4 linked regions of the Homo sapiens genome follow. The protein of the gene in region 2 interacts with the protein of the main gene of each other region in a pairwise test. Each region holds a gene or a part of one and is shown on either strand. Other genes may lie near its edges. The genes, in order: TOR1AIP1, BRWD1, CHAT and NRF1.

Evidence for each region.
Region 1: the proteins of BRWD1 (region 2) and TOR1AIP1 interact in binary tests that used the Homo sapiens proteins (3 or more experiments, as listed by UniProt).
Region 3: the proteins of BRWD1 (region 2) and CHAT interact in binary tests that used the Homo sapiens proteins (3 or more experiments, as listed by UniProt).
Region 4: the proteins of BRWD1 (region 2) and NRF1 interact in binary tests that used the Homo sapiens proteins (3 or more experiments, as listed by UniProt).

The regions. Positions count from the first base shown.
Region 1 is NC_000001.11:179,885,270-179,892,294, reverse strand, and holds part of TOR1AIP1 (torsin-1A-interacting protein 1), read right to left. Parts: intron 2,986-7,025; coding exon of another isoform or gene 2,983-2,985; coding exon 2,926-2,982; intron 1-2,925. UniProt on the Homo sapiens protein: Required for nuclear membrane integrity. Induces TOR1A and TOR1B ATPase activity and is required for their location on the nuclear membrane. Binds to A- and B-type lamins. Possible role in membrane attachment and assembly of the nuclear lamina.
Region 2 is NC_000021.9:39,310,631-39,318,089, reverse strand, and holds the start of BRWD1 (bromodomain and WD repeat-containing protein 1), read left to right. Parts: upstream 1-4,457; 5' UTR 4,458-4,598; coding exon 4,599-4,647; intron 4,648-4,790; coding exon 4,791-4,849; intron 4,850-4,988; coding exon 4,989-5,018; intron 5,019-5,189; coding exon 5,190-5,249; intron 5,250-7,459. UniProt on the Homo sapiens protein: May be a transcriptional activator. May be involved in chromatin remodeling. Plays a role in the regulation of cell morphology and cytoskeletal organization. Required in the control of cell shape.
Region 3 is NC_000010.11:49,624,027-49,631,051, forward strand, and holds part of CHAT (choline O-acetyltransferase), read left to right. Parts: intron 1-1,446; coding exon 1,447-1,627; intron 1,628-3,581; coding exon 3,582-3,759; intron 3,760-7,025. UniProt on the Homo sapiens protein: Catalyzes the reversible synthesis of acetylcholine (ACh) from acetyl CoA and choline at cholinergic synapses.
Region 4 is NC_000007.14:129,656,720-129,663,744, reverse strand, and holds part of NRF1 (nuclear respiratory factor 1), read right to left. Parts: intron 6,403-7,025; exon of another isoform or gene 6,400-6,402; 5' UTR 6,394-6,399; coding exon 6,171-6,393; intron 1-6,170. UniProt on the Homo sapiens protein: Transcription factor that activates the expression of the EIF2S1 (EIF2-alpha) gene. Links the transcriptional modulation of key metabolic genes to cellular growth and development.

The sequences.
Region 1 (7,025 bases), on a different chromosome or scaffold from region 2:
TTGCCATGCCAGCCAGGCTGGTCTTGAACTCCTGACCTCAGGTGATCTGCCCACCTCAGCCTCCCAAAGTGCTGGGATTATAGGCGTGAGCCACCACACCCAGCCTAAAAAGCTTTTTTAAGTCTCTAAAGAAGTGGCCTGAACTTAAGTGAAAGATGAATTAGAGGAAGGTACAATGATTTATAAAGAAAAATGAAGCGTTTCCCTTTTGGCTCATCTTCAAATTTAGAAAATAATTAAAATGTAAAAAAAACTAAGTCTAACAACATTCAATGTAGATTCATTTAAAACCACAAATCATGGTATGTCATGTCCTATAGCCAGGCAGACACTGAAATGAATTAAAACCCGTTCAACGAACGTATTACAGCAAAGGACACTGAACTCGCCGTGAACAACGTATCGAATTCACTTTCTAAATGAAGAAAGGGCCAGGTGTGGTGGCTCACGCCTACAATCCCAAAACTCTGGGAGGCCGAGGCAGGTGGATTGCTTGAGGTCAGGAGTTCGAGACCAGCCTGACCAACATGGTGAAACCCCATCTCTACTAAATATACAAAAATTAGCTGGGTGTCATGGTGGTCATCTGTAATCCCAGCTGCTTGAAAGGCTGAGGCAGGAGAATCACTTGAACCAGGGAGGCAGAAGTTGCAGTGGGCCAAGATCACGCCATTGCACTCCAGCCTCGGTGATAGAGCAAGAGCCTGTCTCGAGAAAATAAAAATAAATAAATAAATAAAAATAAAAAATAAAAATAAAAATCAAGGAGAAAGGCCGGGCGTGGTGGCTCATGCCTGTAATCCCAGCACTTTGGGAGGCCAAGTGGGGTAGATCACAAGGTCAGGGAGTTTGAAACCAGCCTGGCCAACATGGTGAAACCCTGTCTCTACTAAAAATACAAAACAAGTAGCTGGGCGTGGTGGTGGGCACCTGTAATCCCAGCTACTTGGGAGGCTGAGGCAGGAGAATTGCTTGAACCTGGGAGGCAGACGTTGCAGTGAGCCGAGATCGCACCACGGTACTACAGCCTGGGTGACAGAGCAAGGCTCTGTCTCAGAAAAACAAAAACAAAAAATAAATCAAGAGAAAAACCTTAATTGGTAAGTTGTTATCTCCTTTTTCCTAATAGTGTGAATTTAATGAAGACTAGCAGGACTAAATTGATTACATGTTTTTATATGAATTTAAGCAATAATATAGGCATAATTATAGACAACAAAAACCAAGGCTGTTTATGGGAGGTCCTAGTCATAGGGACTGGGTCCCCACAAACTGACATAATAAATTAGTATTCTCAAGCCAATGACTAGATATATATACTCTTGTATTCTATTAATCTGGACCCTCAAAGAGACCTTGTAAGAATTAGAGATAGGGTTGGGCGCAGTTGTGCATGCCAATAATCCCAGCACTTTGGGAGGCCAAAGCGGGTGGATTGCTAGAGCCCAGGAATTCGAGACTAGCCTGGGCAACATGGTGAAACCCCATCTCTATAAAAAACACAGGAATCAGCCAGGCATGGTGATGCATGACTGTAGTTCCAGCTACTCCAGAGGCTGAAGTAGGAGGCTCAGTTGAGCCTCCAGAGTAGCTGGGACTACAATAGGAGGAGGAGGCTGCAGTGAGCCAAGATCACGCCACCGCACTCCAGCCTGGGTGAGAGTGAGACCCTGCCTGGAAAAAAAAAAGAATAGAAATAAACGAACATAATTCACTCATTTTAGTATTTCTATTTGTTTTGTATGTCGAATCTGCAAGAGACATAGCAAGAGAATGATTAGGGTTGAAAAGGAAATGCATCATATGGTTCTTTACCACAGGTTCATTAACAAAACCTTAGTAGATCTTTACCACTGGAATACTTAAAAGGATAGTCAACTATCTATCGAAATAAATCAACATCATTCTTTGATAAAGAGAATGGGAAGGTACAGAAGCCTAATATAAAGATAAATACATTTCCTTTTTAGTTCCCATGATAAAGCATCTTTAAGAGCCAAAAAAACAAGGAAAATGAAGTAAAAGTAGACTGCTTGGAGTGTCTTTACTAGTTTTCTTCATAGTCATGAAATCAATTTCAGGGCAATACTTTTAATCGTTTTAGTCAAAAAGATAACTGAGGGAGGGACATTTTGTCGTTCTGTGCCACAGAGCTCCAGCTTGAATTTTTTGTTAGCAGTATACTGGAAGAATAAAGTCCCTGACCATAGTTTAAAATCATCATAAAGAATCACAGGAATATATAAGAAACAATCTCTTTAAAAAAGGAAGCTTTTTATATATGAATATAGAAATATCTCTGTATATATGTTAAGTAAAAATAAACAAGAAAGTGCAGAAAAGTAAGCCAGGTGCCGTGGCTCATGCCTGTAATCCCAGCACTCTGGGAGGCTGAGGTGGGTGGATCACTTACCCAGGCGTTTGAGATCATGTGGGTAACATGGCAAAACCCCATCTCTACAAAAGATACAAAAATCAGCCAGGCGTGGTGGTGGATGCATAGTCTCAGCTACTTGGCAGGCTAAGGCAGGAGGACTGCTTGAGCCAGAGAGATTGAGACTGCAGTCAGCCCTGGTTGTGCCACTGCACTCCAGCCTGGATGACAGAGCGAGATCTTGTCTCAAATTAAAAAAAAAAAAAAAGACAGAAATGAGAGTTTATAAAGCCAAAATTTGTATTATAAAAAGGACAAGATAATTTCATCCATGAATTTCTGTAAATCTCCAAAAAATATAAACTGACAACATTGGTTGCTTTTGATGAAGAGAGACTGGCTGGCTGAATGACAGAGGGGACAGGGAGATTTTTTAATGTATATTTACAGTAACTTTTAAGTTCTGAATCATATGAATACATGTACAACCATATTTAAAAATAAAACTGTATTTATAACAAAGGTAAACCAACAGACAAACAATCTCTTACCATATCTTGGGTATCTTAGAGGGGGTCGACGTAACCTGATTACAAGATCTTCACTCACTGCTAATATAGGAAGAGAAAACATTTAAAAATATATAAAATGTGAAACATACTAGCTTTATTACATGATCATCCCTTATTTATTCAACAAAGGTTTACAGAGCTTTTATTTACGCTAGAGAAGTAGAGACAAGCTTTCTAAGTGACAACTGTTGCGAACTAGTGATGATAGTGAACTAGAGACAAGTTTCCTGCCATATAAAATTTATAGTCTTGATGGAGAAATTTGCATTTTTTCTCAGCAAACCGTAGCTGTAGGAAGGAAAGAAATACTAAATAAAATTCTTCTAAATTGCTCAATTAAGAACCAAAATCTGTATTATGGTACCAACTCAATTATCTATTCCATTTGTGACTGACCCTCATTGTGGATTATTTATGGAATATTTTAATTTTAGGGTTAACATCCTGAGATTCAATACGCTCATTCTATTTAACCTTGTGTTGAAGAAATGCAAATTAATTTTAAATAAAAACATTAATGTGGGCCAGGGTTTATTTTAGACCATCTATAGTTCAATGGCATAGGGATAGCGGAGAAGCCGATCCTATTAAAATGTTAATTTTAGTCTAGAAAACCACCTATAAAAGTATGTTTTCTCCAAGTACCTCACATAACATGTTCTAAAACCAAATATTTATCAAAATTTGGATTCTATTATGTTTTGTTTCATTCATCTGTATAAAAAAGCATTATGTCTTAGCTCTGAGTTGCAAAAAACACATTCTGGAACTTTGATGATCCCCTTAAATATTCCAGCTCTAAAATTCTATGAAATATCTATCTCAGTATTTCACACATCAAGTATTTAGAACTTATATCGATATCTTTAAAAAATAAATCTTGCCAGCCTAGGCAACATACTGAGACCCTGTCTGGGCATAGTGGTGTGTGCCTGTAATCCCAGCTATTTGGGAGGCGAAGGCAGGAGGATGATAGCTTGAGTCCAGGAGTTTGTGGCTGCAGTATAACTGCACTGCACGCCAGCCTGGGTGACAGTGAGACCCTGTCTCTTTAAAACAAAAACAAAAACCCTGCACACATGATAATAAAGGCAAATTTTAGTTCCTGTTACTCCACATATTACAACTACCTTCCTCTTTTTCTTCTCTATACTTCTAGCCTTTTCAGGTTTAATTAAAACCTAAAATCTGTTTTTGGTTTGTCTGCTTTTACTAAGCTATGTTTAATCAAACTGACTCTACAGACATCAATCACTACTTCAGTTCCCATCTTTTCATTTAAGAAGCATTTCCTGCATGTGCTACTATATACATATCCCATAGCCAAGTAAAGTACTTGAAAGACACAGGGTACCAGAGAGAGGTATGAGAGAACAAAATATCAAGTACCCTTCTTTGGTAGGAGGCTTCCTCACTTGTCTGCTTTTGTTCACCACTGCACCCTCAAATCAAAGCATGGAGACTGGCCCAAAGTAGGTGCTCAATAATTATCTGGAGAATGAATGCTCTAACTACAGCAGCTAGAGAAGCAAATGTTCATGATAAAATAGTAAGCATTTAAGAACAACTATCTGATTGTTTAGCTAGAAACCACACTAGTAGAACAAAAATACCCATTTAACTTCTGGAAAAGTAAATAGAATTTGTCCTAATATATTTTTGGATTATAAAATTAGTGTCATAATTTCCAGAAAGAAATGAATCTGGCCATAGGAGAATAACTGTTATGTAGGTATATATAACCTGAATTGATTAAACAACCTAACGGCTATTTTAAGTGAAAACAACTCAATTATGGAATTTCAAACAATGAGAAGATTTCAAACTATATTCCTGTTCTGAATTAATCAACATTTTCAAGTCTTCCAATAACAAGATAACCAAATGATGTAGATATTTTTACTATGTTGTTTTATAAGGTGGTCCTTTGGTTTAGGTATTTTTTTTTTTTAGACGGACTCTGGCTCCATCACCCAGGCTGGAGTGCAGTGGCATGATCTCGGCTCACTGCAACCTCCGCCTCCCGCGTTCAAGCGATTCTCCTGCCTCAGCCTCCCGAGTAGCTGGGATTACAGGTGCCCACCACCACGCCTGGCTAGTTTTTGTATTTTTAGTAGAGATGGGGTTTTCACCATATTGGCCAGGCTGGTCTCGAACTCCTGACCTCGTGATCTGCCCACCTTGGCCTCCCAAAGTGCTGGGATTACAGGCGTGAGCCACCATGCCGGGCCTAGGTCTTTATTCGTAAGGGCATCTTTGCATAATTTTCTGTCAGACCACACCGGTAGCCTTATATACAATTATAGCACTATTTTGAATATCAAAGTTAAACTGAATGTCTATCATTCTATGAGGAAGAAGGGCTTATCTTTACCTTAAACTTGTACTTAAAGCAGTCCTCCATCAAAGAGTGACTCCATTTAAATAATTTCTCTTAGACTTTATAAGCATTTAATAATTCCCTAAACTCTCCTTTCATTAAGAGGCATGGGATGGGAATATGCCAAGTATTAGATGTAGTATAAAAGCACCTTTTAGAGGAAGAAAACCCTGAGTATCTCAAACCTCTCAAAGACAGACATACTCTTATTTCTAGTAATACTGAAGGCACAGTATGCTATTGATACAGTCCAGGTAATCTATGTGCAGATTCCATTTAATCTGTCATTTATATTGGTAAACATTTTCAATTTCTATTTATAGCATAAGCTTCTTGAGAAAAAGGATACACTTAAGCAAAATTGTATGAACTTCACATCTCTTGTAAAGGGCTATGAGAAAAAAAAAACCTCACTTGCATGTTTTACCGGGTACAAAGTGATTTCAAATGTACTATCTCATTTCTTCAGAGGCCCTGTGAGTTATGCAGGGCAAATAACACAGGTAAAGGCCTAAGGCTCAAGATGAGTGAGTAACTTCACTGAGGTCCAATGCTCTTGCCACAACCTCATGCAGCCATGGTGTACCTCATTAGCAGTTCTTAAATATGAGCCTAATATAAACTCCAAAAAGACTATTCAAGACATTCTATTACTTAATAGTTTTATAATGGTCCGGAGGCTAGCACTCAGTAGTCTTCATTATACCAATTTACTTAACTCCATAATTTTTATAAATTACTCTAGATTTAAAATTAGACATTTTTGCTTTCCCAGGTATACAATAAAATCTACTGCAAATAAATTCAAGATTATGGTTTTCCAAAATGGCCCAGAAAATCTGATTATATCATCATTATTCAAAGCATTTTTCTAAGATAGTTTATAATCTTAACACAGTAACATAGACTATTCAAGGAATATAGGACAGGCCAGGCGTGGTGGCTGATGCCTATAATCCCAGCACTTTGAGAGGCCAAGGCGGGTGGATCACCTGAGGTCAGGAGTTCGAGACCAGCTTGGCCAACATGGTGAAAACCTATGTCTACTAAAAATACAAAAATTAGCCAGGTGTGGTGTCAGGCGCCTGTAATCCCAGCTACTCAGGAGGCTATGGCAGGAGAATTGTTTGAACCTGGGAGGTGGAGGTTGCAGTGAGTGGAGATGGCACCACTGCACTCCAGCCTGAGCAACAGAGCGAGACTTTGTCTCAAAAAAGAAAAAAGAAAAAAAAATTAGCATGAAGGTGTTTTTATTTGAAACTCAACTTGAACCAGACATACTTATTCTAAGTTTAGAATACAATAGCTCACATTATAAAGCATAATCTTATTAGAAACAGGTAAATAAGTCAGGATCTGGGTACTAAAAACCAAGGATTATCAGTTTTAACAGCTATGATTGTTTATTATTGTGAGACTTTCCTAATATCAAAAAAAGCAAATTGAAAATTAAATGGAACTAAAACCCAAAGCATTAATAACTGGACTTGATCCCTTCTCCAGCTTTTTAAAATATTTTAATCAGCTTTTAAAACTTAAGTGAACTATTAAATGTAGCCTACTTCCATGTTACATTGATTCTGACAATTTTTTTAAACACTTTAACATCTTTGAAATTGGGATGCATCATATAATTATGGCATATTACTACAAATTACCAAAAAATTGGCAGCATTTTCCCTTGCTAGGTGGTACATAA
Region 2 (7,459 bases):
ATTCTTAAACTTTATTAGCCTTAGTTCCTCATTCTTTTTTGAGACAGGGTCTCGCTCTGTTGCCCAGGCTGGAGCACAGTGGTACCACCATAGCTTGTGACAGCCTTAAACTCCTGGGCTCAAGTGATCTCCTGCCTCAGTCTCCCCAAATAGCTCAAACTACAGTCACCCAACACCATGCATGGACTAAGTTTTTAATTTTTTGTAGAGAGAGGGTCTCACTATGTTTAAGACCAGCCTTGAACTCCTGGGCTCATGCGGTCCTCCTGCCTTGGTCTTCCAAAGTGCTGATAGCACAGACGAGAGCCACTACGCCCAGACTAGTTTCCTCATTCTTAAAATGGGAATAACAGAATCTAAGAGTTGCCTGCGGTAAATGAGATTACACACGTACTTATCACGTGGGCTTCCAAATGTCAGCTCTCTGATGCGCTAGCTGTGCAATCCTGTGTAAGTCTCCTAATTTTCAGGTCCCATTTCCTCTTTTGTGAAACGTGGCCAAGGGAGAATGGACTTTGCAGTGTTTGTGTTTCAGTCTAAGATAATACTGTCTACTTGGGATTGCAGTCCAGCCACCACTTACCAGCTATATGCCCTTGGGCCATACTTCCTCTGCGCCTCAGCTTGAGCCTATCAATGACATCTAAGAGCTGTTTATCCAGTCAGGAGTTGCTTGCCACGGCATAAGATGTTGGTTCCCTTGAAAATGCAACCCTATAGCTTAATGTCACCCACTGTTAAGATTTTCCAACACTTGCTTACCATGTAGCTTTCTTGTGGTGAAACTCTAAAGTTATTTCCATTTACCCAAAAGCAAACCTCAGTGTGTACATATGGAATGGCTGGGATTGAATTGTGTGAGGAATACACAGATTCTTGCCTTGTTTGGAGACCACTTCTGGTGGGTACCCACTAAGGAGTTGCTCCTGGACAGTGTATTTCTTTTTCCTCCTCCTGGCAGGCAAATATGAGTCACATCTGAGTCTCTTGACATATGGGAGTCGAATCGGGAAGATATTCTCTCTCTTGTTAGAAATCTTTGTTCCTATTCAAAATTTAGAAAGAATATTTGTCATGAATGTGATAGTAAGTTGTAAAAGGACTCCCAAGGCTCTTGTAAAGGAAAACTCATGTCATCGTGTCTTTTTTTTGAGACAGGGTCTTGCTCTGCTGCCTAGGCTGGAGAGCAGTGCTGTGATCATGGGTCACTGCAGCGTCAATCCCCCCCGGCTCTAGCCATTCTCATGCCTCAGCCTCTTAAGTAGCTGGGGCTACAGGTACACACCTACCACCCCTGGCTATTTTTTATTTCTTGTAGAGATGGGGTCTTACTATGTTACTCAGGCTGGTCTCGAACTCCTGGGCTCAAGCAGTCCTCTGGCCTTGGCCTCCCAAAGCGCTGGGATTACAGGTGTGAGCCACTGTGTCTGGGCTCGTGTCATCATTTCTGATCTCTTGTAATGGTTATCATGGTGCCAGTATCAGAACGATAATTTTGGACAATGACCAGAGCTTGGGATATAAATTCTTGTAATATCTTTAGGGGGTTTTTAATCTTACGCCCTTGTTACAAAATGAAATGCACAACTCCTTGGTCAATCATTGAAAGTTTAAATTCTCCCCTCTTGATGTCTTTGTCATTTGGTAACACTGGTAATCTTGCAGCATCAGATCACTGTCCCACAGTCATCTATGCACTGTAACTTCAAATAATCAAGTTGTTGCAAGCAGTTACTCATCTTAACAATCTAGCTACCAGCCTGTATGCCCTACCTTATTTGTTGGCACAACCTTGGAAAGCCCCAAACGAGATTTTTGTGGTTTTTATTTCACCCCAACTTCATCTTGCAGATTTACTGTCCTACATACTTCTGATCTTGTCTCTTCTCTATCCTTATGACCAACGCCCTCATGCATCATTTCTTTTCTATTTCAGGGGTATGTTAAGTGCCTCTTGGTCTTAACTTTCTCAAATCCATCCTAAAATAGAAAATGATTCCTTCCTGGCTTAGAATCTTTCAATTGCTCCCAATTTCAACTTCTGACATCATGGTCCCATCCTCTCCAAAGTCACCCCAAGTAGTCATACTAAACTTCTGGTTCCTTAAACTAGAAATCATATTCATGTCTTGGCCCTCTGTTGTTTGTATGTGCGAAATCCCTTTCCACACATTGTAGCCTGGATAACCCAAACTTCCCTAACATTTCCCCCACGCACAGGCAAGCTGATCTTCTGATATATCTCTGCCCTAAATCGTGTCATTATTTGCTTACATCTGTTTCCCCTAAGAGACGCTGAAGTCTTTGATGGCAAAGCTGTGGCTCATTCCTTTTTTTTTTTTAATCTCCATCACTTGTTAGTGCTTGCTGAATTAACAGATGTAAGGAGTTAACTTACTGTTGCACTAGCTCAAACATATTTAGATTGTTACCTCACAAATAGCTTTTTTTTTTTGGAGACGGAGTCTCGCCTTGTCGCCCAGGCTGGAGTGCAGTGGCGCGATCTCGGTTCACTGCAGCCTCCGCCTCCGGGGTTCAAGCGATTCTCCTGCCTCAGCCTCTCAAGTAGCTGGGACTAGAGGCGCGCACTGCCACACCTGGCTAATTTTTTTATTTTTAGTAGAGACGGGGGTTTCACTATGTTGGCCAGGATGGTCTTGATTTCCTGACCTCGTGATCCGCCTGCCTCGGCCTCCCAAAGTGCTTGGGACTACAGGCGTGAGCCACCATACCCGACAGCCTCACAGATATCTATGTCCATTTATAAATATATATAAAAGCTTTTGGCCAGGCGCAGTGGCTCATGCATGTAATCCCCAGCACTTCGGGAGGCCAAGGCGGGTGGATCACCTGAGGCCAGGAGTTCGAGACCAGCCTGGCCAACATGGTGAAACCCGTCCCTACTAAAAATATAAAAATATAAAAATTAGCCGGACGTGGTGGCGCTTGCCTGCAATTCCAGCTACTCGGGAGGCTGAGGCACAAGAATCGCTGGAACCCGGGAGGCAGAGGTTGCAGTGAGGTGAGATCGCGCCACTGCACTCCAGCCTGAGAGCAAGACCCTGTCTCAAAATAAATAAAAGCTTTTGCTATTTGGTGTAAATAAAAGCCAACTTGTACACGGTGCTTACTGTATACCAGGAACACAAATTCATTAAATCCTCACAACTTTGAGACAGGCACAAATATTATCTGTTTACTAGTGAGGAATTACCTACGGTTTACTAGTAAGGAACACTGAGACCCACAGGTTGTGACTTGCTCAAGGTCAAGCTGGTGGAGCCAAGACAAGGTGCAGGCAGTGAGTCCTGCCCTAGAGTCTGACCCGAACCACATTTAACGTCTATGTGGTGTGTAGGTTATTGCCATGAGTAAGAATCAGAATTGTTAACGCGCATTCCAGGAAGGCAGGGACACCACTGAGTGTTACTGCTGTACTTTAGGGGCCAGAGCAGGGCAGGCTGGATGCGCGGAGGAAACTCATAGTTAGGTCAGAAGCCTGGCAAGACAAGGGAATTTTCTGGTCGTCGTCCACCTCTCCAACCTCACATCCTACTAGTCTTCCAAGAGGATTCTAACTGCACATGACTCCCTAGTTTCCGGCTTCTCTTCCTAAGGAGGGTCTGCGGCCCGTCTGCACCACCCTCTCCCCACAGTCCCGTTTTCCTGTCCATGCTTGGATGGATCCAGCCGAGCCGTCAGCCGCAGCTGCGCGCTGCTCCCCCGACTCGCACCCCCTCGGCGAAGCGCTGCATTTTATGTAATTTTCTGCCGGGCTGCTGGCTTGTGGGGGATGTGGCTGGGTCTCGGCAGCCTTCAGCGCCGCAGACGCTCCGGCAACGCCAGCATACGAGGCCCCCGCCCCAGGAGCGCGGGTCCGGGCGGCGTTCCCCTCTGCGGGAGGCGCGGCGAGCCAATCCTCACTTTAAAAGCTTTCCTGTCCTCGAAGCGAGGGGTCTTCCGTGCGGGGCAAGACGCACTGGCCCCAGACGACCGGTCCGTGAAATGACCCTTCCGAGCGACCCGGAGCGGGCGACCTTGCCCAACCCGCGACTCGGGGCCCCTGCGGTCCCGCGTAGAGGACCCAGGTCCCACGGGGGGCGGCGGTGAATCGCCCCCTCTTGTGGCCGCGCTTCCGCCCCCGGCACCCGCCCGCTGCTGGGCCACCCGGCGTCGCGCTGCCGCCTCACAAAGCCCGGGCAGCCGCCTCATTGCGCGCAGGGATTCGGACCACGCGCCCTCCCCTCCCCCACTCGCTGCTGCGGCGCCCAGGTCTTTGCCTCCGCGTCACTTTCTCCTCATCGAGTCCCCGGAGGCAGAGAGCTGAGCGAGGTTCGCCTCCCCGGGCGGGACACGAGCTCCGGTCCTCTCTTGGCGCAAACCCCCGCCCCCCGCGGAGGGACTACTTTTCGTCTCCCGCGGAGGAACTACTTCCTCCCCCGCGGAGGCGTCGGTCCAGGCGGCGCGCACGGTATGGCGGCGGCGGCGGCGGCGGCGGCGCGCGCCTGAGAAGAGGGGACGCCAGCCCGGTCAGGCCTCGGCGCGGCCTACACGCTCCGCTCGCTCGCTCGCTCCCGCCTCCCGCCCCGCGCCCGGCCATGGCGGAGCCGTCGTCCGCCCGACGCCCGGTGCCTCTCATCGAGTCGGGTAAGACGCGAGGCCGTGCCACCCCCGCCCTGGCGCTCCCGGCTGCTTCGGCTTCCCCGGCTCCCCGGGCTCCCCCGGCTCCCCTGGCCCCGTCCCCCTCCCCTCCCCGCCGGGGCTTGACCTGACTCCTTGTCTTCCCGCAGAGCTGTACTTCCTTATCGCCCGGTACCTATCGGCGGGCCCGTGTCGGAGAGCGGCCCAGGTGAGTGCGGGCCCGCGGGCGGCTGCGGACTTGGCGTCCCCAGTGTCCCCGCCGCCGGGGGTCGCGGGTGGTGGGCGGGGGTGAAACGGGAGCGCCCCGGGCCCGACCCCACCCCTGACCGCGCGTCTCTCGGCCGCAGGTGCTGGTGCAGGAGCTGGAGCAGTACCAGGTCTGTGCGCGCCCGTCCCCGCGCTCCCTCGGGTTCCTCCTGCCGACCTTGCCCTGAGGGATGCTCGCCCGCGCCCCCCGCCCGCCGCCCGCCGCCCGCCCCCGGCCCCCCGCCCCCCGCCCCCCCCGCGCCGGAGGGGTGGTCACTCGTGTGCGTTTCGTGTCTTTCCAGTTGTTGCCGAAGAGATTGGACTGGGAGGGCAACGAGCACAACAGGAGCTACGAGGAGTTGGTGAGCATTGGGCACGTTTGCTCCCCGGGTTTTCCGTGCACCGCCCCCCGCCCCCGCCCCTTCCCCTCGCGGGGACCCCGGCCCGTGGGGTGCAAAGTGTGACCCGCACTGGGGGGCGGCCCGGGGATAGCTGCGTTCCCGGCTGAAGATTTTGTTTTGTTTTTGAGGCGGCCAGGTTTGTTTTGGCAGGAAACAGTCATTGGGGGCGGCGCGGGGCGGAGCGGTGGGGGCGACTCGCGGAGGTCCTGCGGCAGGGGTGGGGCTCCAGGTGCGGCCGCCTCTGCGGGGGTGTGGCGTGCGCAGCCAGCCATTCAACTGGGCGGTTTCATTCGCTTCCCCGCTCCACCGCGCTTGTAACTCGCGCTCTGATTGGCCTCGCTGCTCTTGCCCCGCCCGGGTCTGTCCCCCCACTTGTTCCCTAGGAATAGAATCATTGGTCTCTGAAGGTGGAGAAATGTTCTTGTGTTGAGCTTTTTATTTTTTGTTTTGTCAGCAGCGTCATAAAAATCTTGCAGCTGTATGAATATGCCACTGTAGTGCTTGTGCTCCTTTCTACTGTACAATATTTGTTGAACGCAGTAGTTGATTGATGAGTTTCACACTGATCTTGTAGATAACACAATAAAGTGCTTTAAATAGGCACTTTTCTTTTGAGCTCGGTTAATCTTGCATTACAGTCTCATTTCTTTTGTGAACTTGGTTAATGTTTCTATATAACTTGCTTTTATCTATAGTTACAGCAGTTGCAGGGATTCGTTTGTTTTTACTGGAGACATTTTTCAGGAATATATTTTTGCCGTTTCGTTATTAGGATAAAGGAATTCATTAATTGCCAGGCCATATTCAGCATCTTGTATAAGGAAAACAATTGAGAAAGAAAAGAGCTTCTGAGTGATCTTTTACCACAGTTGGAAGACCTGTAACACTTGAGTGGTAGAGTATGGTGGCAAGTGAAAAGAAGAAAAAAAAGTGGTAGAAGATTACTGGTTTTGAATTAGACAACAGAAGAGACCAGAGGATGTGTTATTTCCATGAACAGTTAACACTTGAAGCCTGGTGCAAGTAATAAATAATTTTAATATTTGCTTTCTTAGATTTTGAAGTAAACACTTTAACAGTGGATGTTTTCAAGGGAATGAGTTCTAAAAATTCTGATGGCAATGTGTTGAGTTTGACATTTTGAGATAGTTTATTTTTGTAAACGTTGAGGAAACATTTAAAGGATGCCCTCTTTTAGTTTTCTTCACGGATAATATAGCCTTATCGGTGAAGCGGAAAAGCATTACTGGTTATGACGCTGTTGTCGTGCTACCTGAGAGAAAATAACTTGAAACAAATGTAGTGCTGTAACTACTGGAAAAGTTACTTTTAAAATACATTTATAGGGGCTGGGTGCAGTGGCTCATGGCTGCAATCTCAGCACATTAGGAGGCCGAGGTGGGAGGATCACTTGAGGCCAGGAGTTCAGACCAACTCTTGTCTCCACAAAGAATAAGTAACAGAAAATTAGGCGGCTGTGGTGGTGCGTGCCTGTAGTCCCAGCTATTTCGGAGGCTGAGGCGGAAGGATCACTTGACTCTGGGAGTTTGAGGCTGCATTGAACTATCCTCCTGCCACTGCATTCCAGCCTGGGAGATGGAGCAAGGCCTAGTTTCTTTTTTTTAAAAAAAAAATTTATATAAATTTTTTGGCTTTTGTTGGTAGAATTGCTTAAAACCCTACTTACTATTGTTTAAAATCACTTAAATTCTGTGATAATATGGCTGTGATTTGGCTATGACATATGGCATCTATCATTGCCTCCCTGATTTGGTCTGTCTGGTGGGTGTCCTTTCTTTTTTTACCTTCCTCTCTGCCCTCCAGTCCCCCAGGACTGAGTGATGATGAGCCTCATGTGTAGAGAATTATTCTTTTGTTAATGGTATATGTATCGTTTCTAAACTTTCAAAGTCTTTTAAAAATACCTTATTAAGAAGTATTCCAGGCCAGCTGCGGTGCTAACACCTGTAATCCCAGCACTTTGGCAGGACGCTTGAGGCCAGGAGTTCTAGACCTGCCTAAAGTGAGGTTGAGGATGTAGTGAGCCCTGATCAAGCCACTGTGCTCCAGCCTAGGTGAGCGAGACCCTGTCTCGAAACGCAACAACAAAAAAGAAGTATTTCAGATGTACACAAATGAGAATAATGTAATGCACCGCTGTATATCATCAA
Region 3 (7,025 bases), on a different chromosome or scaffold from region 2:
AGCCTCCCAAGGGCTTTCACTGCACCAAGAATAAGGCGATAGCTCCTCTCCACTGCCACTGGAGCCCCACAGGACCTGGCCTGCCCACCTCTCTGGCCCTGTCTTCACTGGGCCTCAGCCCCACTGGCTTCTCTCTGCCTTTGATCAGTGCTTCTCAAGCTGCCTCTGGGGAAGAACCAATATATTTTCTTTCATTTTGTAAAATTTGTGAAAAACAACAAAAAATTGATTACTAGAAAAACGGTATGAAATATGAGACCAAATGTTTTATTACAGGATTCAACAGACATAAAACTCCCATCACATTGCTACAAACATTTCTGGGTTCAGGCATTACACCAAGTCATGGGTCAGTCACAGCAGTTCAGTGCAATACTCATACTTTGAGTTGCAGTGCTTTGGGACACTTCACCCTTAGGGCTCAGCTCAATCAACCTGCCTCAGTGAGACTGCCCCTGGTCACCACCTCCTGTCCCTGCCAACACTCTGTCTCACTACCTGACAGTCTCCTGTTCACTGGTTTGCTGCTTGTGGTCTACTCCCTACCTACACATCCTAGGACTTACACCCCAGTAGAGCAGGAGCTGCATGTCTTATTTGCTGCCATATCCCCACATCCCAGAATGGTGCCTGGCCTATACGGAGGACGTGCTTCACAAATATTTGTTGGCTGAAAGAGTGGAAGGAAGGAAGGATGGATGGACGGATGGATGGATGGATGGATGGATGGAAAGATGGATGGATGGTGGATAGATGGGTGGATGGTGGATGGATGGGTCGATGGAAGGATGGATGGATGCTTGGTGGATGGATGGGTGGATGCAAGGATAGATGGATGGTGGATAGATGTGTGGATGGTGGATAGATGAGTGGGTGGTGGGTGGAAGGAGGGATGGATGTTTCGTGGTAGAAGTATGGTAGATGTATGGATATATGGATGGATGATGGATAGATGGATGGGTGGATGGATGGAAGAAAGGGAGGGAGAAAGGAAGGATAGGCACAAGGCATGCTGAGACCAGAGGGAAAAAGAACTTCCTGCATTGACCTCAGAAGAGGCTTCTAAAAGAGATGATAAAGGAGTAGGCTCTTGAAGGAGGGGAAGGAGTTTTCTGAATAGAACAGTTGAGTTCTGGGGTTGGGGCAAAGGCACGCCGAGAGAAGATCAGCATAAGCAAAGATGCAGAAGGCTAACTGGCAGGCTTTGCACATGCCGTGCATGAGGCAGAGGTTTGAGAAAACTCTGAGGGTCTCCACGTGTTGTGGAAATGGGGCCTCCACTACTTTAAAAAGTGGAGAATTGAGCTCTGCATCTGCCATGATGATGCAGTTCTGGGTTCTGTGCCCCATTTTGCCTGATCAAGTTACAATAAAACCCATTCTCTGTCTCCCCTCACCACCCACCATCCCCTCGTGGCTGCCTCCCTTCCCACTCCTCTCCTTCAGCCACTCCATTCCCACTGACTGTGCCAAAGGCCAGCTGTCAGGGCAGCCCCTTTGCATGAAGCAATACTATGGGCTCTTCTCCTCCTACCGGCTCCCCGGCCATACCCAGGACACGCTGGTGGCTCAGAACAGCAGCATCATGCCGGAGCCTGAGCACGTCATCGTAGCCTGCTGCAATCAGGTAAGCAACCCCTTGTCTTGGTGAGGGAGGGCACAGAGCATACAGTGGCCATGCGTTCACGTCCATTACCTTCTCCGAGGGGGCTCAGCCTCCTTCCCTGAGTCACACAGGGAGCTGGGGCACCATGTCTCCAAAGTGGGGCCCCTACTTCCAGTCAGTCCCATGTCTCTCCACCAGTTGCCTTCTAAGAATGAGAGCCGTCAGTTTGAGAATATCCTCACTGGACTCTCACTTCAGCACTGATGCACTGAGGGTCATGATCGAGACCTCCACCTGTACATCTGTTCTTTTCCATGCAGTCACCCAGGCTCTGGCCTTTCTGGAGACCACACACAGACAGACAGTGTTACAGACTGACAAATAGGACCTTTCATGTGTCAGCCTGTGGGCTCAGCACTTAACATGCATTCATCCCACTTAATCCTCACAGTGACCATGCAGAGGGGGCCTTAGGATCTCTGTGTGACAGTTGAGGACATGAGACTCAGACAAGTTAAGTGGTCTGTCCAAGAGTGGGAAGGAATCCTGGGTCTGGCCAGTGCCCTAAGGTCATGCTCTACCCCCTGCAGCTCAGGTCCTCAGACTGGGTTCCACAGAGCCAACAAGGACCCATGGGTCCTGGGGGACAGGCTGAGCATGAGGGCTCCTGACCTCTTCCCTGTGCCCACTGCACTATATATTCCATATATTGAGCTTCACATAAATATTTCCTCTGACAAACAGTTTTGTTTTTGTTTTTGCTTTGCTAAAACCCAAGTTTGGCAACCATCCCAGGGACTCCCCTGGTACTTGCTCTACAATGTGATCCTGGGCTCTCCTCACATTTTTAGTAAGTTGGGAGCTCTGTGGAGCCCTGACATCTGAGGGCAGCTGTGACCTCTGTTCCTAGATTTGAAGGCCATCTAGGAGCTCTCGCAGCCCACCTGACACCTTGGCCATAGACCAAGGACGTTTCCCCATCTTCATTCAAAAGTCAAGCCAAGTATTTCCCAGCTCCCACAGGCCACCGTATCCACCTCTTCCAGACATGCTCTGGGCCCCTGCACAAGACCAGGCCATACAGACACTGCTAGGGGGTTGGAGGGGAAGGGAAAACAAGGTACTCATGTCAATCAGCTGAAAAGTGTATCTTGACCTGGGTCTAGGAATAGACCCTTCACAAAGCCCAAGGCTCTAGCCTTCAAAGCTACAAAATGACAAAACCACAGGGCTGACATACAAAGCACATGTAGGTATACATGTGAAGGTGCACACACATGCACACATGTGTAGGTGCACATGCACGCATGGTGTGTGTTGGTTTTCCATTTTAATCTTCCTCTGCATATGATTGCTGGCTTGCTTTTTTTCCTCCACTCACCAGTGTGTTTAAGGCCCATCACTGTGGCTCTATCTGTTGCTAATTCACTCTTTTCAATGGCTGGGTAGACATGCCCTAGACATATACACCACATTTCACTTAGCCATTCCCCTTCTGGAGAACAGTGAGGCTCTTGCTACCATTTTGCTGTTGCAAACAAGGCCGAGAGGCACATTCCTCGTGTCTTCCGGTACACACGGGTACGTTTCTCTAAGCCTCAGGCTAAAATATGCATTTATAAGTGCAATTGCTTAGTCATAGGTATGCACATTTTTAGTTTTGATAGACACTGCCCTCCAACAGTAGCTGTGCCAATTTATATTCCATTCCCCACAAACATAATGGATTCCGTGAACCATGAAACACATTTTCTTTTGGCTAAGTTTAATGTTGCCTTCTTTGATTGGGGGCAGCGTGGAATCCAGCACAGTCAACAGCCTTGGCTTGGTCCCTAAACTGAGACTAGAACCACCAAACACCTTGGGAACCTTGGGCCTGAGCATCCCTGCCCCAAGCTTACCTGTGAAGGCTGAGTGAAGGCCTGGTGCCACGGGCCACCCAACAAGTGACATGTTTGACCTGTTTACCCCACAGTTCTTTGTCTTGGATGTTGTCATTAATTTCCGCCGTCTCAGTGAGGGGGATCTGTTCACTCAGTTGAGAAAGATAGTCAAAATGGCTTCCAACGAGGACGAGCGTTTGCCTCCAATTGGCCTGCTGACGTCTGACGGGAGGAGCGAGTGGGCCGAGGCCAGGACGGTCCTCGTGAAAGGTCAGCCGCAGTGCCCAGCACATCTCCATGCCCATCTCATGCTCGTGCCCATTGGCTTTCCCTCCTCTAGGGTTGGGCCAGGGCCTCATCCCCATCAGCCATAGTGTGGGAGCTCAGGGCCCACAGCATGCCCTGCGGCCAGCCACAGTGCCTTGCCACCGAAGCCACCTTTTGTGCCCTCGTGTTCCATCTGACAGTATCTGGCTTTCTTGGTGGGACTAACTAGTGCTGGAATTGGGGATGTCTGAGAATACTGGGCGGGGCGGGGGAGTTAGCTGGAGGAAGGCTGGCTGCAAGTGAGCAGGTGTGTTTTCCTGGTGGGTGGCGCTCACTGATAGTGGCTGGGGGAGTCGCTGAATGGGGGTGTGGGATGGAGCCTGCCTCTGGGAAAGTGGTTCACCACCTCTTTCACCTGATCTCTCCATCCTGGGACTCTTCATCTTCAAGCTGTCCCTTATCTTGTGGCACTGTTCTGATGAAAGTCTCCAAGCATTCCCATAAGAAAGCCAGGAATATTCTTGAAAATTTTTCATCACCCTTCTGGAAACTACTTTCAAATCCAAAGCTGGTCCTATTCCAGGAGCTGATGGAATGCTCTCCTTCCTTGCCCATGTTAGAGACACTGGATGAGAAGCAAGACTTCTGTGAGTCTTTATTTACCCCTCAGAATTTTACTGGGTCAGGCAATCTATTCAGACTCTCCACATCTGTTACTGAGGGCCCTGGGCTTGGCTCAGGGAGTATGGGAGACAAAGGAGTTGAGGCCTCTACCCAAGAGCAGCCCCATGATGGGAACAGGAAGAGGGGGCATGGGGAGGAGACTCACATCCAGGTGCATGCAGTGCTGACCCACTTCAGACAGGCGTCAAAAACGTGCTCCAGGACTTCAGAGAGGGGACGGAGCCCTTCCGAGTGGGATTGTGAAAGGCTCTGTTAGAAGAGGTGGGAATGGAACAAAGCCCCATGGCATGAGTGAGAAAGGCTGGAGGGAAGGATGGTACCCAGGCAGGCAGACCAACCCTGGGCAAAGCCCGAGGCCCAGCAGGGACACACCCACCTTACCCCCAGGGTGAGGAGGAGAATAGCTGCCCAGCAAAGGTGGCCTGAGCCGGATGTACTGGGCCTATTTTTTCTAACAGCCACTTGCATTTTCTGGTCTCTCTCTAGAAGGGTCTTCCCCCAGATCCAGCTGGCTCCTTGCCGCACGCAGAGCTCAGCCCAGGTGTCCGGCCTCAGGCCTGCCTTGGGCATCCTTCCCGCACACTCTGTCACTGTGGCCCGTTCGCTTACCTTGACTCTGTTGCTCACTCTCTGAGGACAACTTTGCATTTGTTTGATAAATGCTGATTATCTGCCTTTCCCCCCACCTCCTACCCACTGCCTATAAGGTCAGAAGGACAGGGGCCTTGTCTGTTTGGTTTAATTTCTGAGAAACACAGTCTGGGCCCAGTTACATTTATTAAATAAAAGAGTGAAGGGTGATTAAAAATGCCAGGCCCCAGACTTATTCCCCGACTTACCAATTAATTATTCTTTCATCCAATTATTGGGCACCTCCTGAATGCTGTCATAAATAGGGGGCTGCAGGAGCCAAAGAGGGGTGTGAGAGCTGACTGCCCTCCCGGACCTAACCTCGTGCTGGAGAATTAATAACTTAGCATTCCGCAGTGAGTTAATTCCCTCGGGAGACCATGGTGTAATCAAATCCCACTCTTCTCCCCTTCAGGGACAGAGACAGGCATCAAAATAATCGCCTCTGCCTCCAGCATAGTTTCCACTTTATTAGCAGGCCAGGCCCAAGACACGCCCTTCAGGGCTGGCTGGATTGCCCCAAGGTCTGAGCACTTGGGCTGCAGATCAGAATTGATTTGTTAATGGCACTTGATCTGGCTTTCTGAATGGAAGTGCTGTTTCTGAGGGAAATGCGACAGAAAGGAGGGGACACATGCGCCTCCCCTTGGGTAATCCGATTAATCCAGTTAGCGCCAACTGTGTCATCTACACAACAGGAAACTGATCCTTCACAGATCCCCCCTCCCCAGAGCAGCCCTGCCTATGGAACAGAAACAGAGAGACCATTTACAAAATGATTTCGGTTTCCCAGTGAAAGAGTATGGCAGCTTGGGACAGGGTTGAGAGTGAAGATGGAGAGACCAGTGACGTCAAGGCCATTGAAAGCGAGAACAATTCCTGGGCTTTTTATCCGAGCCGTGAGTGGATGTTAGTGCCATTTAGTAAGATGGGAAACAGGGTCGGGGAGTGGGTACAGGATGGAGAAATCATTGCCACACATGTTGGGTTAGAGGTGCTTGGGTCATCTGGGTGGAGACGTCAAGCTTAATATATATGTTTGGAGCCCAAGGGAGAGGTCAGTACAGAGCAATAAATTTGAGGGACATCAGCGCATAAATGATCCTTAAAGTCATGGACCTGGGTGAGATAATCTAGAAACAGAAGAACAGGGAGCCTGGAGGTCAGGTAGAGAAGGATGCAAAGGGGATTGAGAAAGAGTAGCCCATGAAGTAAAGGAAAGCCAGAAGAGTCACAAAGATTCAAGACAGAGGGAACGGCCAGCCACATGGAATGCTGTGGAGAGCTGGAGGAGGAACAGGACACAGGGGACCCGGCTTGGCAACCCTGAAGTTGTCACTGGGCTTACTGAGGGTCAGACTGGAGTAGCAGGAGAACAAATGCTTGCACACTGACAGAAGTGATCCAACAGCAGAAAGAAATTGTCGATGAGGCAGTCAGTGAGTTGAACCAGTGAGTATGGTCGACTTTTTCTCAGACATTTTGACACTAAAAGGAGCAGAAAAATGAGGGAGTTGCTAAAAGAGGATGAGGGTCAAGGGAGGTGTTTTTAGGAGGAGAGACAAATGTATGGAAGGAATTTAGTAAAAGAAATTGATGAAGAGATAGGAGATGAATGGAGGGGTGGAATTCTTGCAAAGGCAAAAGGAGATAGAACTCAGAAAATAAGAGGCCTTTGGTTGGTACAGGGTGAAGTGGAAAGCTTGGGCCTGAGGCAGCAGAGGTAGGAGCATGCAGAGGCTCCCAACTGGTACCTCCTGGTCTCAGATCACAACCTTGAGATAAGAGGCGGGCAGTTGGATGTTGAAGATGAAATCGACTGTGTGAAATAGCCTCCTGGAAAGTGGGAAAGAAGACTTGAAAAACTTGATAAGATTTATGGACTGTGTTGAGCTCATATATGAAGGTTCAAAGTGATACATTTTAGGAGAGGCTAATTAACATTGTTATGTGAT
Region 4 (7,025 bases), on a different chromosome or scaffold from region 2:
ACAGCCTCTGCCCGCCCGCCACCCCGTCTAGGAAGTGAGCAGCGTCTCTGCCTGGCCGCCCATCGTCTGGGATGTGAGGAGCCCCTCTGCCCGCCCGCCCCGTCTGGGAAGTGAGGAGCGCCTCTGCCCAGCCGCCACCCCGTCTAGGAAGTGAGGAGCGTCTCTGCCTGGCCGCCCATCGTCTGGGATGTGAGCAGCCCTCTGCCCGGCCACCCCGTCTGGGAGGTGGGGAGCGCCTCTGCCCGGCCGCCCCGTCTGGGAGGTGAGGAGCACCTCTGCTCGGCCGCCCATTGTCTGGGATGTGAGGAGCGCCTCTGCCCGGCCGCCACCCCGTCTGGGAGGTGAGGAGCGCCTCTGTCCGGCCACCACCCCGTCTGGGAAGTGAGGTGCGCCTCTGCCCGGCCACCCCGTCTGGGAAGTGGGGAGCGCCTCTGCTCGGCCGCCCCGTCTGGGAAGTGTACCCAACAGCTCCGAAGAGACAGCGACCATCGAGAGCGGGCCATGATGACGATGGCGGTTTTGTCGAAAAGAAAAGGGGGAAATGTGGGGAAAAGGAAGAGAGGTCAGATTTGTACTGTGTCTGTGTAGAAAGAAGTAGACATAGGAGACTCCATTTTGTTCTGTACTAAGAAAAATTCTTCTGCCTTGGGATGCTGTTAATCTTTAACTTACCCCCAACCCCATGCTCTCTGAAACATGTGCTGTGTCCACTCAGGGTTAAATGGATTAAGGGCGGTGCAAGATGTGCTTTGTTAAACAGATGCTTGAAGACAGCATGCTCGTTAAGAGTCATCACCACTCCCTAATCTCAAGTACCCAGGGACACAAACAGGGCCGAAGGCCGCAGGGACCTCTGCCTAGGAAAACCAGAGACCTTTGTTCTCGTGTTTATCTGCTGACCTTCTCTCCACTATTATCCTATGACCCTGCCACATCCCCCTCTCTGAGAAACACCCAAGAATGATCAATAAATACTAAAATAAATAAATAAATAAATAAATAAACCTTAAATTGGATTAAGATGATCCAGGATTGCTAGTGCCCTCGGGCATCTCGCAGAAGCAAACAAAAATCCTCTCTAGAGGAAGATAACATTATACTAGACCCCAAATTATTTCTAGAAATAATTTTCCAAACACAGCATCCAGTATTCATTGAAATATAATAGTACACCAAGAAAAGAGCCAACGTGAACAAGAAATGACATTAACAACATGTAACAGAAACTTGAGAGAGAATTACCAGGTAAATTATAAAATTATTTGTTTAAAAGAAATTTTTTTCCACTATTGGAAACCGTTCAGTGCAAATCTCGGAGGAAACACACACACACACACACACACACACACACACACACACACTAGAAATTCTAAAACTGGAGGAAAAAAAACACTTGGTTAGTAGTTTTGGTTAAACTATTAACAATTACCAAAATTAATAAGTCAATGAACAGATTTAGAAGCACCTTAATAAATAAAGAAAAAACAAAGAAAAGAGAACATAAAAAAGGCACCTTAAACACAGCTGATATGGTTTGGCTGTGTCCCCACCCAAATCTCATCTTGAATTGTACTCTCATAACTCCCACATGTTGTGGGAGGAACCTAGTGGGAGGTAACTGAATCATGCGGGCAGGTCTTTCCGGTGCTGTTCTTGTGATAGTGAATAAGTCTCATTAGGTCTGGGGGTTTAAAAAAAGAGGAATTCCACTGCACAAGCTCTCTCACTCTTTGACTGCTGTTATCCATGTAAGACATGACTTGCTCCTCCTTGCCTTCTGCCATGGTTGTGAGGCCTCCCCAGCCACATAGATCTGTAAGTCCACCGAAACCTCTTTTCTTCCCAGTCTTGAGTATGTCCTTATCAGCAGCATGAAAATGGACTAATATAGTAAATTGGTACCAGGAGTGGGGTGCTGCTGAAAAGATACCTAAAAATGTGGAAGTGACTTTGGAACTGGGTAATAGGCTGGGGTTGGAACAGTTTGGAGGGCTCAAAAGAAGACGGGAAAATGTAGGAAAGTTTGGAACTTCCAAGAGACTTGATGAATGGCTTTGCCCAAAATGCTGATAGTGATATGGACAATAAAGTCCAGGTTGATGTGGTCTCAGGTGGAAATAAGAAACTTGTTGGGAACTGGAGCAAAGGTGACTCTTGTTATGCTTCGGCAAAGAGACTGGTGGCATTTTGCCCCTGCCCTAGAGATTTGTGGAACTTTGAACTTGAGAGAGATGATTTAGGGTATCTGGCAGAAGAAATTTCTAAGCAGCAAAGCATTCAAGAGGTGACTTGGGTGCTGTTAAAGGCATTGTTTTATAAGGGAAGGAAAACATGAAAGTTTGGAAAATTTGCAGCCTGATAATGCAACAGAAAAGAAAATCCCATTTTCTGAGGAAAACTTCAAGCTGGCTGCAGAAATTTGCATAAGCAACAAGGAGACGAATGTTAATCCCCAAGACAATGGAAAAAATGTCTCCAGGGCATGTCAGAGGTCTTCACAGTAGCCCCTCCCATCATAGGCCTGGAGACCTAGGAGGTTTCAAGGGCTGGGCCCAGGGTCCCTGTGCTGGGCACAGCCTAGGGGCTTGGTGCCCTGTATCCCAGCTGCTCCAGCTGTGGCTGAAAGGGGCCAACACAGAGCTCGGGCCATGGCTTCAGGGGCTGCAAGCCCCAAGCCTTAGCAGCTTCCACAAAGGTGTTGAGCCTGCAAGTGTACAGAAGTCAAGGATTGGAGTTTGGGAACCTATGCCTGGATTTCAGAGGATGTATGAAAACTCCTGGATATCCAGGCAGAAGTTTGCTGCAGGGGCGGGACCCTCATAGAGAACCTCTGCAAGTACAGTGTGTAAGGGAAATGTGGGGTTGGGTCGGAGACCTCACACAGAGTCCCTTCGGGGGCACTGCCTAGTAGAGCTGTGAGAAGAGGGCCACTGTCCTCCAGCCCCCAGAATAGTAGATCCACCGACAGCTTGCATCTTTTGCCTGGAAAAGCCACAGACACTCAACAACAGCCCATGAAAGCAGCTGGGAGGGAGGCTGTACCCTGCAAAGCCACAGGGGGCAGAGCTGTCCAAGACCATGGGACCCCACCTCTTGTATCAGCATGACCTGGATGTGAGACATGGAATCAAAGGAGATCATTTTGGAGCTTTAAGATTTGACGGCCCTGCTGGATTTCGGACTTGCATGGGGCCTGTAGCCCTTTTATTTGGCCAATTTCTCCCACTTGGAATGCCTGTATTTACCCAATCCCTGTACCCCCACTGTATCTAGGAAGTAACTAACTTGCTTTTGATTTTACAGGCTCATAGGCAGAGGGACTTGCCTTGTCTCAGATGAGAATTTGGACTGTGGACTTTTAAGTTAATGCTGAAATGAGTTAAGACTTTGGGGGACTGTTAGAAAGGCATGATTGGTTTTGAAATGTGAGGACATGAAATTTGGGAGGGGCCAGGGGTGGAATAATATGGTTTGGCTCTATGTCCCCACTCAAATCTCATCTTGAATTGTACTCTCATAATTCCCACATGTTGTGGGAAGGACCCGGTGGGAGGTAATTGAATCATGGGGGCAGATCTTTCCCATGCTGTTCTTGTGATAGTGAATAAGTCTCACAAGATCTGATGGTTTTAAAAGGAGGAGTTTCCCTGCACAAGCTCTCTCTCTTTTTGCCTGCTGTCATCCATGTAAGATGCGACCTGCTCTTCCTTGCCTTCCACCATGATTGTGAGGCCTCCCTAGCCAGGTGGAACTGTAAGTCCATTAAAACCTCTTTCTTCCCAGTCTTGGGTATCTCTTATCAGCAGCATGAAAATGGACTAATACAACAGCTAAAGAAGAAAATCTTCTGTCTTTCACAAGCTGAAAGACAGAAGAAACTACACAGAAAGATGATACATACAGAACAGATGGTTAAGAGACATACAAGTGAGGAAGACTAACATAAGTAACTGGAGCCATGGAATGAAAAGAGATGGAATGCAGCAGAAGCAAAATCTCATGGCTAAAATTTCCGGGAGAGGGGGGCAGGCCATGTGGGAGATAATCTTTGAAAGAGTAGCGGTTAGAATGAAATAGCTGAATTCTCAATAGCAGCAATGGAATCCAGAAGACAGTGGAACAGTACCTTCAACATGAGGAAAGAATAACCACCAAGCTAGAATTCCATACTCAGTGAAAACATCCTTCAAGGTTGAAGTTTAAGTAAAAACATTCACAGACAAGCAAAAATAGAACTTGTTACTAGCAGATCCATGTTAAAGCAAATATTAAATGGTGTCTTTAGGCAGAAGTAAAACCATCTCAGGAGACCAGTTGGAGATGCAGGAAAAAAAATTAACATTATTTTTTAAATAAAAATATTGTTCGCTGGATGCGGTGGCTCACGCCTATAATCCCAGCACTCTGGGAGGCCGAGATGGGTGGATCACCCGAGGTCAGGAATTCAAGACCGGCCTGGCCAACAGGGTGAAACCCCATCTCTACTAAAAACACAAAAATTAGCTGGGCATGGTGACGCACACCTGTAATCCCAGCTACTCGGGAGGCTGAGACAGGAGAGTTGCTCCAACCCAGGAGGCAGAAGCTGCAGTGAGCCAAGATTGTGCCACTGCACTCCAGCCTGGGCGACAGAGTGAGACTCCATCTCAAAAAAAAAAAAAAAAAAAAAAAGTCCTGTGGTGTTTAAAATACAGTTGTCCCTTCAAATCCTCTTGAGATTGTTTCTAGCATCTTGATGTGTAGATGCTCAAGTCCCTGATATAAAATGGTGTAGTAGTTTCACATGACCTATTCACGTCCTTCTGTATCATTTCTAGGTTACTAATACTAATATTATAATACCTAATACAGTGTAAATGCTATACAAATAGTTGTTGTATTGGCCTTTTATTTGTATTATTTTTAATTGTTATATTGTTACTTTTAATTTTTTCCTAATACTTTTGATCAAAATTGGTTGAATGTGCAGATGTGGAGCCCACAGATAAAGAGAGCCAACTGTATACCAAAAATGAATACAAAGGACAACAATAGCATATAGGATGGGCGCATGAAATGCAAGTGTTCTAAGAAATTTGTATTATCCCTGTAGAGGTTAAAAGTTCCAAGTACATACAACGTTTTGCTTTTCCTTTTTTTTTTTTTTTTCAACTGGACACAGGCTCTCACTCTGTCACTCACGCTGTAGTGCAGTGGTGTAATCATAGCTCACTGCACCCTCAAACACCTGGGCTCAAGTGATCAGTCATCCCACCACAGCCTCCCAAGTAGCTGGGACTAGGGAGCACGTCACCACACCCAGCTAATTTTTTTTTGGTAGAGATGGGATTGCACTACATTGCCCAGGCTGGTCTCAAACTCCTGGGCTCAAGTGATCCTCCCACCTTGGCCTCCCAAAGTGCTGGGATTACAGGTGTGAGCCACTGAGCCTAGTCAACATAAGGCATTGATAAATAAAGGATGTATGTTACAATTTCTACAGGTATTGATAATAGTAAAAGCTTATAACTTTCAAACTAACAAGAAAAAAATGAAAAAATACAAAATTTTCAATCACTACAAAAGAAAACGCCAAGAAAGAGAAAAGTAAACAGAACAGGTAGGGCAAAGAGAAAGCATATAGAAAAGAAGGTAAATTTAAATCTAAATACATGTCAGTGATTCTGTTTAACGTAATTGGAATAAATGCTTCAGTTTAAAGCCAAAACATAGGCAGAATAGATGAAAAAATAAAACCAAAGCCATAACACTGATAGTAAGTGATTACAGACCTCAAGTCTCAGTATAATACAGGCTCAAGTTATAACTGCAAGGCTTAAAAAAGTTGTGATAAAGGCCAGGCATAGTAACTCACACCCGTAATGCCAATAATTTAGGAGGCCGAGGCAGAAGGATCGCTTGAGCCCAGGACTTTGAGGCCAACCTGGGTAACACAGTGACATTTCTGTCTCTACAAAATATACAAAAATTAGCCAGATGTGGTGGTACACATCAGCAGTCCCAGCTACTCCAGAGGCTGAGATGGGAGAATCACTTGAACCCGGAAGATCAAGGCTGCAGTGAATCATGATTGTGCTGCTGCACCCCAGCCTGAGCAACAGAGTGAGACGCTGTCTCCAAAAAAAAAAAAAAAAAAATTAAAGAAGAGCTTCTAATCCAAACAACACTACCTGCAGCTGCCAGATGAGCTGTCACCTCATCAGCTGCTGTGGAGTTGAGTATATCTGAGTCATCGTAAGAGGTGTCCTCGGGAGAAGAAGGCGAGTCTTCATCAGCACTCAGCATACTATGCTCGGTGTAAGTAGCCACATGGACCTGCTGCACTTGCTGGGCCACTGCATGTGCTTCTATGGTAGCCATATGTTCGGTTTGGGTCACTCCGTGTTCCTCCATGAAGTTCTACTGTCAGACAAAAAAGAAAAAGAACAGGATTCAGTGTGTAATATAACACAATGTTTAAACTAAGAGATATTTTATTCAAGAGCAGAGGAACCTTGACAAAATTCCAATTTCACTACTTACCGTGCCACACCAAGTCACAGGAAATGGGAAGCACCATGCAAATGTGACATAAAAATGACAGAGTGGTGTTCTTACGTGAAACCATTTTGATGGAAATTCGCTGTACTAATTTTATACCTCAGATCACAAAACAACAGATACCCTTAATAATAAAAAGACATTCAAATATAACAATAAAAACATACTTAAGATAGCTCAGTGACTAGCATTTGGCCTTGTGAACATAAGAACACTTAGTAAATAAGTGAAATACTTAACATTTTCTTTGTATGTCAAAGACGAGTGAGAGTCAAATAACTTTTTTCCCAAAAATTCAAATTGGTCTTTCTGCTTATAAAACTGCTTCTTGAGGGCATGGCGGCAAGTGCCTGTAGTCCCAGCACTTTGGGAGGCCCAGGCAGGTGGATCATCTGAGGTCAGGAGTTCGAGACCAGCCTGGCCAACATGGCAAAACCCTGTCTCTATTAAAAATACAAAAAAATTAGCCAGGCGTGGTGGTGGGC